Regions from separate parts of the Homo sapiens genome. Here region 1 is linked to region 2. Evidence: fine-mapped expression QTL. A gene starts in region 2. The other region holds a variant in brackets. All regions are shown on one strand. Distances are from middle to middle.

Region 1 (3,014 bases), 530 kb after region 2:
GCACAGAGGGAATCCCAGCAACAGGAGTAGCTCAAGATTGGGCAGGTCCTGGGGTGTCTGGGCAGCTACTGTTCTCTCTCCTCTCTAAGTCAGGGCATCCTTTCCTTTCTCCTCCCCCTAGGACACACCAGGAGGTCTCCCTGCCCTCTTTCCAGACTTCACTTTGTTGAGTCCTCAAAGCCCCAAACCAGGATGGAGGCTTATACTGAAAGACACCAAATCACATTCTGTCCATCATGCAGGGCCTCTTTCACAGATTTGCTTACCGCCACAGTGCACAGGGACCCGTCTGAATCTCTATGGACTGTGCACATCAGCTCCCAGGAACTCTGGTCCTTTCCTTGCATTTTCTATGTTAACATATGGGCCCACTATCCATTCAGTTGTCTAAGCCAGAAACCGCAGTCAGCCAAGATCCTTCTCACTTCTTCCATATGCAATTGTCACCAAGGCCTGCTAATATGATATCTGCTAGCTTTTAGTTGATCTTCTCCTGATTCCTCAGTCACTGCATTTTGTTGGAGTGGTCATCTGTCTTTCCTGGAGTGTAGCTGTAGCTCCTGTTCTGCTCTTACTTCCAAACTAAGCTGGAGGAGTCTTTCCAAGGTGAAAAGCTGATCAAGTTCATCTCATTGTGGAGATTCAATGGCTTTGATGATAAAATGTACATTTCTTGGCTTCCTACACTGGGATTTTGTTGATTTGTCCCTGACTCCTCTCCCTTGCCTTCACAAGCTCCTTCTACTATAAACATAACAATGTTCTTGCATTTCATGCTTGCATCTTCTCATTCCCTGGATTGTTCCTACTCTTCCCTCAGACTCAGCAAAGGCATCCCTACTTCAGGGAAGCCTTATAAATACATCTACTTGGTTTTACATGGCTGTCTCTCCAACCCAACTTTCAGTGTTTCCCCTGCCCCTCCTCCCACTGCCACCAGGCTGACAATATCTTAAGGGCAGAGTTCGTATTTTATACTTCTCCAGAGTCATTGCACGTGATAGACGTCATTCAATATTTGGAGTTTCTTAGTCTCTTAAAAAAACACACCTTTTTTTGGAGAAAGGGAAACATGTACACTGCTGCTTGGAATATAAATTAATTTGGCCAATGTGGAAAGTGGTTTGGTGATTTCTGAAAGAACTTAAAAAACAGAATCACGATTCAACTCAGCAACCTTATTACTAGGTATATACCCAAAGGAATATAAATCATTCTACTATAAAGACACATGCACACGTATGTTTATCACAGGACAATTTATGATAGCAAGGACATGGAATCAACCTAAATGCCTATCAATGGTAGGCTGGAGAGAGCAGCCTGGCCAACATGGTGAAACCCTGTCTCTACAAAAAATACAAAAAAAATTACTGGGCATAGTGGTGGCCGCCTGCAATCCCAGCTACTTGGGAGGCTGAGGCAGGAGAATCGTTTGAACCCTGGAGGCGGAGGTTGCAGTGAGCCAAGATCACGCCATTGCACTTCAGCCTGGGC[A/G]ACAGGGTGAGATTCTGTCTCAAAAAAAAAAAAAAAAAGGTAGCCTGGATAAAGAAAATGTGGTATGTATACATCATGGAATACTATGCCGCAGTAAAAAGAACAAAATCGTGTCCTTTGCAGCAACATGCATGGAGCTAGAGACAATTATCCTAAGAAAACTAATGCAGGAGTAGAAAACCAAATACTTAATGTTTTCCCTTATAAGTGGGAGCTAAACATTGAGTACATATGGATACAAAGAAGGGAACAACAGACATCAGAGTCTACTTGAGGGCGGAGGATGGGAAGAGGGTGAGGCTGGAAAAACTACTCCTGTGACATGCAATGTACCTACATAACAAACCTGCACATGTACTCCTGAACCTAGAAAAAAAGTCACATCTCTGTCTTAATGTCTGTCCTCTGTAGATGCCTTGAGCCTCTTATGGGATCATGAGGATTGTGTGCTGGGATCCCGGCAGACAAAGCTGAGATTCAGCTGGATAAAGCAGGCTGTAGCACAGCTGATGTTTGTTCTCTGTGGAAATCAGGCTCTTTTCTCCTAAGGTGAGTTCTAGAGCAGTTATTTCTACTATTAGTCCATTTTTTTGGCGTATATTCTATGTGCCTAACTGAGGTTCATTTGGTGTTTTCATCTTCATGCAAGCCCACTGAAGTGGGTGGTACTATCCCTGCTTGACACATAGGAAACTGAGTCATATACAAGTTAAATAACTTGCCCAACAAATATAATCATTATTCATTAACACATAGATTTGTCTTTAAACCCCATGCTCTTAACTTTTTTTTTTTTTTTTTGAGACAGGATCTCACTCTGTTGCCCAGGCTGGAGTGCAGTGATGCCATCTTGGCTCATTGCAGCCTCCGCCTCCCGGGTTCAAGCGATTCTCCCACCTCAGCCTCCTGAGTAGCTGGGACTACAGGCATGCACCACCATGCCAGGCTAATTTTTATAGTTTTTTTTTTTTTTAGAGACAGGGTTTCACCATGATGGCCAGGCTCCCATGCTCTTAACTTCTAAGCCATAATGTTTTATGAATTCAGTTATGAATTGGATACGTGTTGTGAACTAAAATTCAAGCAATTTTGTATTCTAACCCAACATGAACATTGAAGTTAGTGGGGTGCCTAAATGCTGGCTGAGGGTGGGAAACCAAGTTAACTACAGAGCCTCTTGCCTGGTCCTGCCTTCAAGTGCACCTTCCCAGTCTCAGCCTGGGCTGCTCTGAACAGGTTTTCTTGGACTTGTCAGCAAGATACAGGCTTCCATTGACAGTTTTGGAGTCAGGCTTAAATATGTGGAAAATGCCTCTATGTCAGGCAATTTCTTTCCAAAGTATGCTTAACTTCTTCTGGCTTTCATAGTTGTGAATCTATAAATTCTTTTGAGTAGAAAAGTGGTTTGCATCCTTGACAAAGTAGTTGGCATTAGAACCTAGTCTCGTCAGTGTTTGTTTGGCTTTTTGATTTTTAAAATTCAGAACAAATTGTAATGTGACTCAGGTCTTGAACGT
Region 2 (2,751 bases):
CAATGTGGCCCAGCCTCCCACCCCACAGTGCATTCCTTGGTGGGGCCAACTTGTTCAGCCAGATATCTCTATTCTCCCAAAGAGCACAGAATGATTTTTGCCAGCCTGGGCCATCACAGAAGAAATTAAGCTGAAACTGAAAACAAATATAGAGTTGGAAAGTCCCTCAAAACTCAGGGGCACTGAGGTTGCCAGTGAGACAACCAAGAAGTGGAGATCCTCCCCAGGCCCCTCCTCTTCCCTGCTCTCCTCGGCCCTGCTCTCCTCCGCCCTGGGGGAAAGCGTCCTTGGTGCCTGGAGGGATGGGGGAGAGAAGGCGTTCACCTTGGCTCTGCTGGCGTTTTCCTTGGGGCCCTCCAGCTGCAGCCAGATGTGGGGGTTGTCCGGACAGTCCTTCGGAAGGACGCTCACCCCCACGCTGAAGATGCGCTCCACATGGGGCTGCTGTTCCCGAACCTTGTTCTCAGCCTCCGCAGACACCGCAAAGCGATCTGGGGACGCGGGGCGGGCCCCCCAGGTAGGCATGGCTGCTGCCCCCAGCCCTGGAAGGGGAGAAGGCAGCTCAGAGCCTCATTGTACCCTCCATCCAAATCCTGGTTCCTGGGACTACACCAGCTATCAACAGGTCGCACCTAGTTAAGGCTCTGGTAAACAGCCCCAGGAGGTGACAAGCATCTGAGTCCACTGGAGGTAGGGAGGGTGTATGTCACGCAGGCCTCTCCGGAGAGGAAGTCCCGGTAAACAAGGCTGTCTATCGAGAGTGGGCGTCTGGGCTTTGGAAAAGGATGACCACAGTCCGGAGCAAGAAGGGTGGGGGGGCTCCAGCTCGGCCTGGAGGCCAGAAGGAGTCTCCTGGGGCACTCTGAAGCTTCTTAAGGACGAATCCTCAGCAGGGGATTGAACTAGGCTGTCCTCTGGGGGCCCTGGTCTGCCATTTCCAAGGTTCAAGCCACTCCCACCCCTCCCCCAGCCGTCCGCTGCCCCTCTCCGTCGGGCCAGGAGCACCGCCCAGGGCCCAGGGGCCGGGCCGGGCCGGGCCCGCCCACCGCGGACTGGGGCAGCCACCCCGGGCCGGGCCTACTCCGCACCGCGGCCCCCGCTCCCCGCTCCCGGGCGCGGTGGAGGGGCGCGCCTACCGCCTCCGCCGCCCGCGCCGGCTTCAGGTCCTCTCAGCGCCCGCCAGGCCCCCGCTTTGCCCGCGCCCCCAGCCCAGGGGACAAGGGCAGGGGGCCCGAATCTGGGCGGGCCTTCCCGGGTTCCTCACCCAGCGGGGACCTCTCTTGTCCACATCGCACGCAAACTGTTTCTTGAGTCACTTCCTGGCCTGGGGCGGAGTCAGCCCAGCTCCTCCCGGCTGCGCGCCCTCCTCCCAACCCCGCCGCCGCGCCCAGAGGCCCCGACGGGCCCGCTCGGCCTAGTCCCCTCGGCGGCTCCAGGGCTCGCCCCTTGCGCTTCTCACCAGCCCTCCCGTCTGTCTCCCGGCCCTCAGGGTCCTCGCGCATTCTGCGCAGTTACTTCTCGGAAAGGGGAACCATGCGTTGAAAGTTGTTTCCCGCGAATAAAGATGTGGCCGACCAAAGAGGCAGCGTGACTGGCCCACTGGTGCTCTAGGCCCAAGCACTTTCCACCAAAGCAATCGTGGCGGAGGGGGTAGGCGGGAGGCGGGAGGCGGAGGGTACCCGTGGTGGAGTACCCCTTTCTTCCAACAAACGGAAAGATGCCACGAAGAAGGGCTGTTGATTTGTGGGGGATTTTGAAGAGAGGAAGAGTAGGAGGAAGGGGTTGAGGGGCTGCCTCTGGCATATGCACACACTCACACATTCTGTCACACCCGTCACACACACATACCATGTTCTCCATCCCCCCAGGTCCAGCCCTCAGTGCTGTCCCATCCAGCAGGGCTGCCCTGAAGCTCTGGCTGCAGCCCTCCCGTCCAGTGGGCAGGCGGCTTCATCCCTCCTTTCTCTCCCAAAGCCCAACTGCTGTCACTGCATGCTCTGCCAAGGAGGAGGGAACTGCAGTGACAGCAGGAGTAAGAGTGGGAGGCAGGACAGAGCTGGGACACAGGTATGGAGAGGGGGTTCAGCGAGCCTAGAGAGGGCAGACGATCAGGGTGCCGGCGGTGAGAATCCAGGGAGAGGAGCGGAAACAGAAGAGGGGCAGAAGACCGGGGCACTTGTGGGTTGCAGAGCCCCTCAGCCATGTTGGGAGCCAAGCCACACTGGCTACCAGGTCCCCTACACAGTCCCGGGCTGCCCTTGGTTCTGGTGCTTCTGGCCCTGGGGGCCGGGTGGGCCCAGGAGGGGTCAGAGCCCGTCCTGCTGGAGGGGGAGTGCCTGGTGGTCTGTGAGCCTGGCCGAGCTGCTGCAGGGGGGCCCGGGGGAGCAGCCCTGGGAGAGGCACCCCCTGGGCGAGTGGCATTTGCTGCGGTCCGAAGCCACCACCATGAGCCAGCAGGGGAAACCGGCAATGGCACCAGTGGGGCCATCTACTTCGACCAGGTAATCCCCCTACCCCTGTCCAGGGGACCTGGAAAGACCCTGCAAGGACCTGGAAGCAACTGTCCAAGCCCACTTTGCTGTCTCTGAGGCTTTAAGAAAACAGCTTCCTACATCTTTCACTAATCTGGCCTATTGCCCCACCACCCCACCGACGGTTTCCCCTCCCTCCACCCATACGCAGCCCTCTCCTTGCCCCTTCTCACCATTTCTTTTGAATCTGTTCACTCCTATTCACTCCTACTTGCCACTC

Direction of the effects. Alleles are on the strand shown, and positions count from the first base shown. SD is a standard deviation of normalised expression in the study named.
As copies of A replace G in region 1, the expression in naive CD4 T cells of the gene that starts at base 1,302 in region 2 goes up (large effect, 0.76 SD a copy in Schmiedel 2018).

The links. PIP is the estimated chance that this variant, and not a neighbour inherited with it, causes the effect.
Region 1: its variant is fine-mapped to the expression of KHNYN in naive CD4 T cells (Schmiedel 2018, PIP 0.92).

Annotation. Positions count from the first base shown.
Region 1 is chr14:23,901,607-23,904,620 of GRCh38, reverse strand. It overlaps LINC00596 (long intergenic non-protein coding RNA 596), which reads left to right and starts at 1,682. Exons shown (of 4, transcript XR_429343.4): 1 at 1,682-2,046. The variant A/G (reference allele first, on the strand shown) is at 1,498.
Region 2 is chr14:24,428,505-24,431,255 of GRCh38, reverse strand. It overlaps KHNYN (KH and NYN domain containing), which reads right to left and starts at 1,302. Exons shown (of 8, transcript NM_015299.3): 1 at 1,137-1,302; 2 at 325-542. The coding sequence starts at 525. It overlaps CBLN3 (cerebellin 3 precursor), which reads left to right and starts at 1,588. Exons shown (of 3, transcript NM_001039771.3): 1 at 1,588-2,501. The coding sequence starts at 2,202. RefSeq lists enhancers at 1-7, 46-155, 8-571, 716-895 and a silencer at 926-1,465.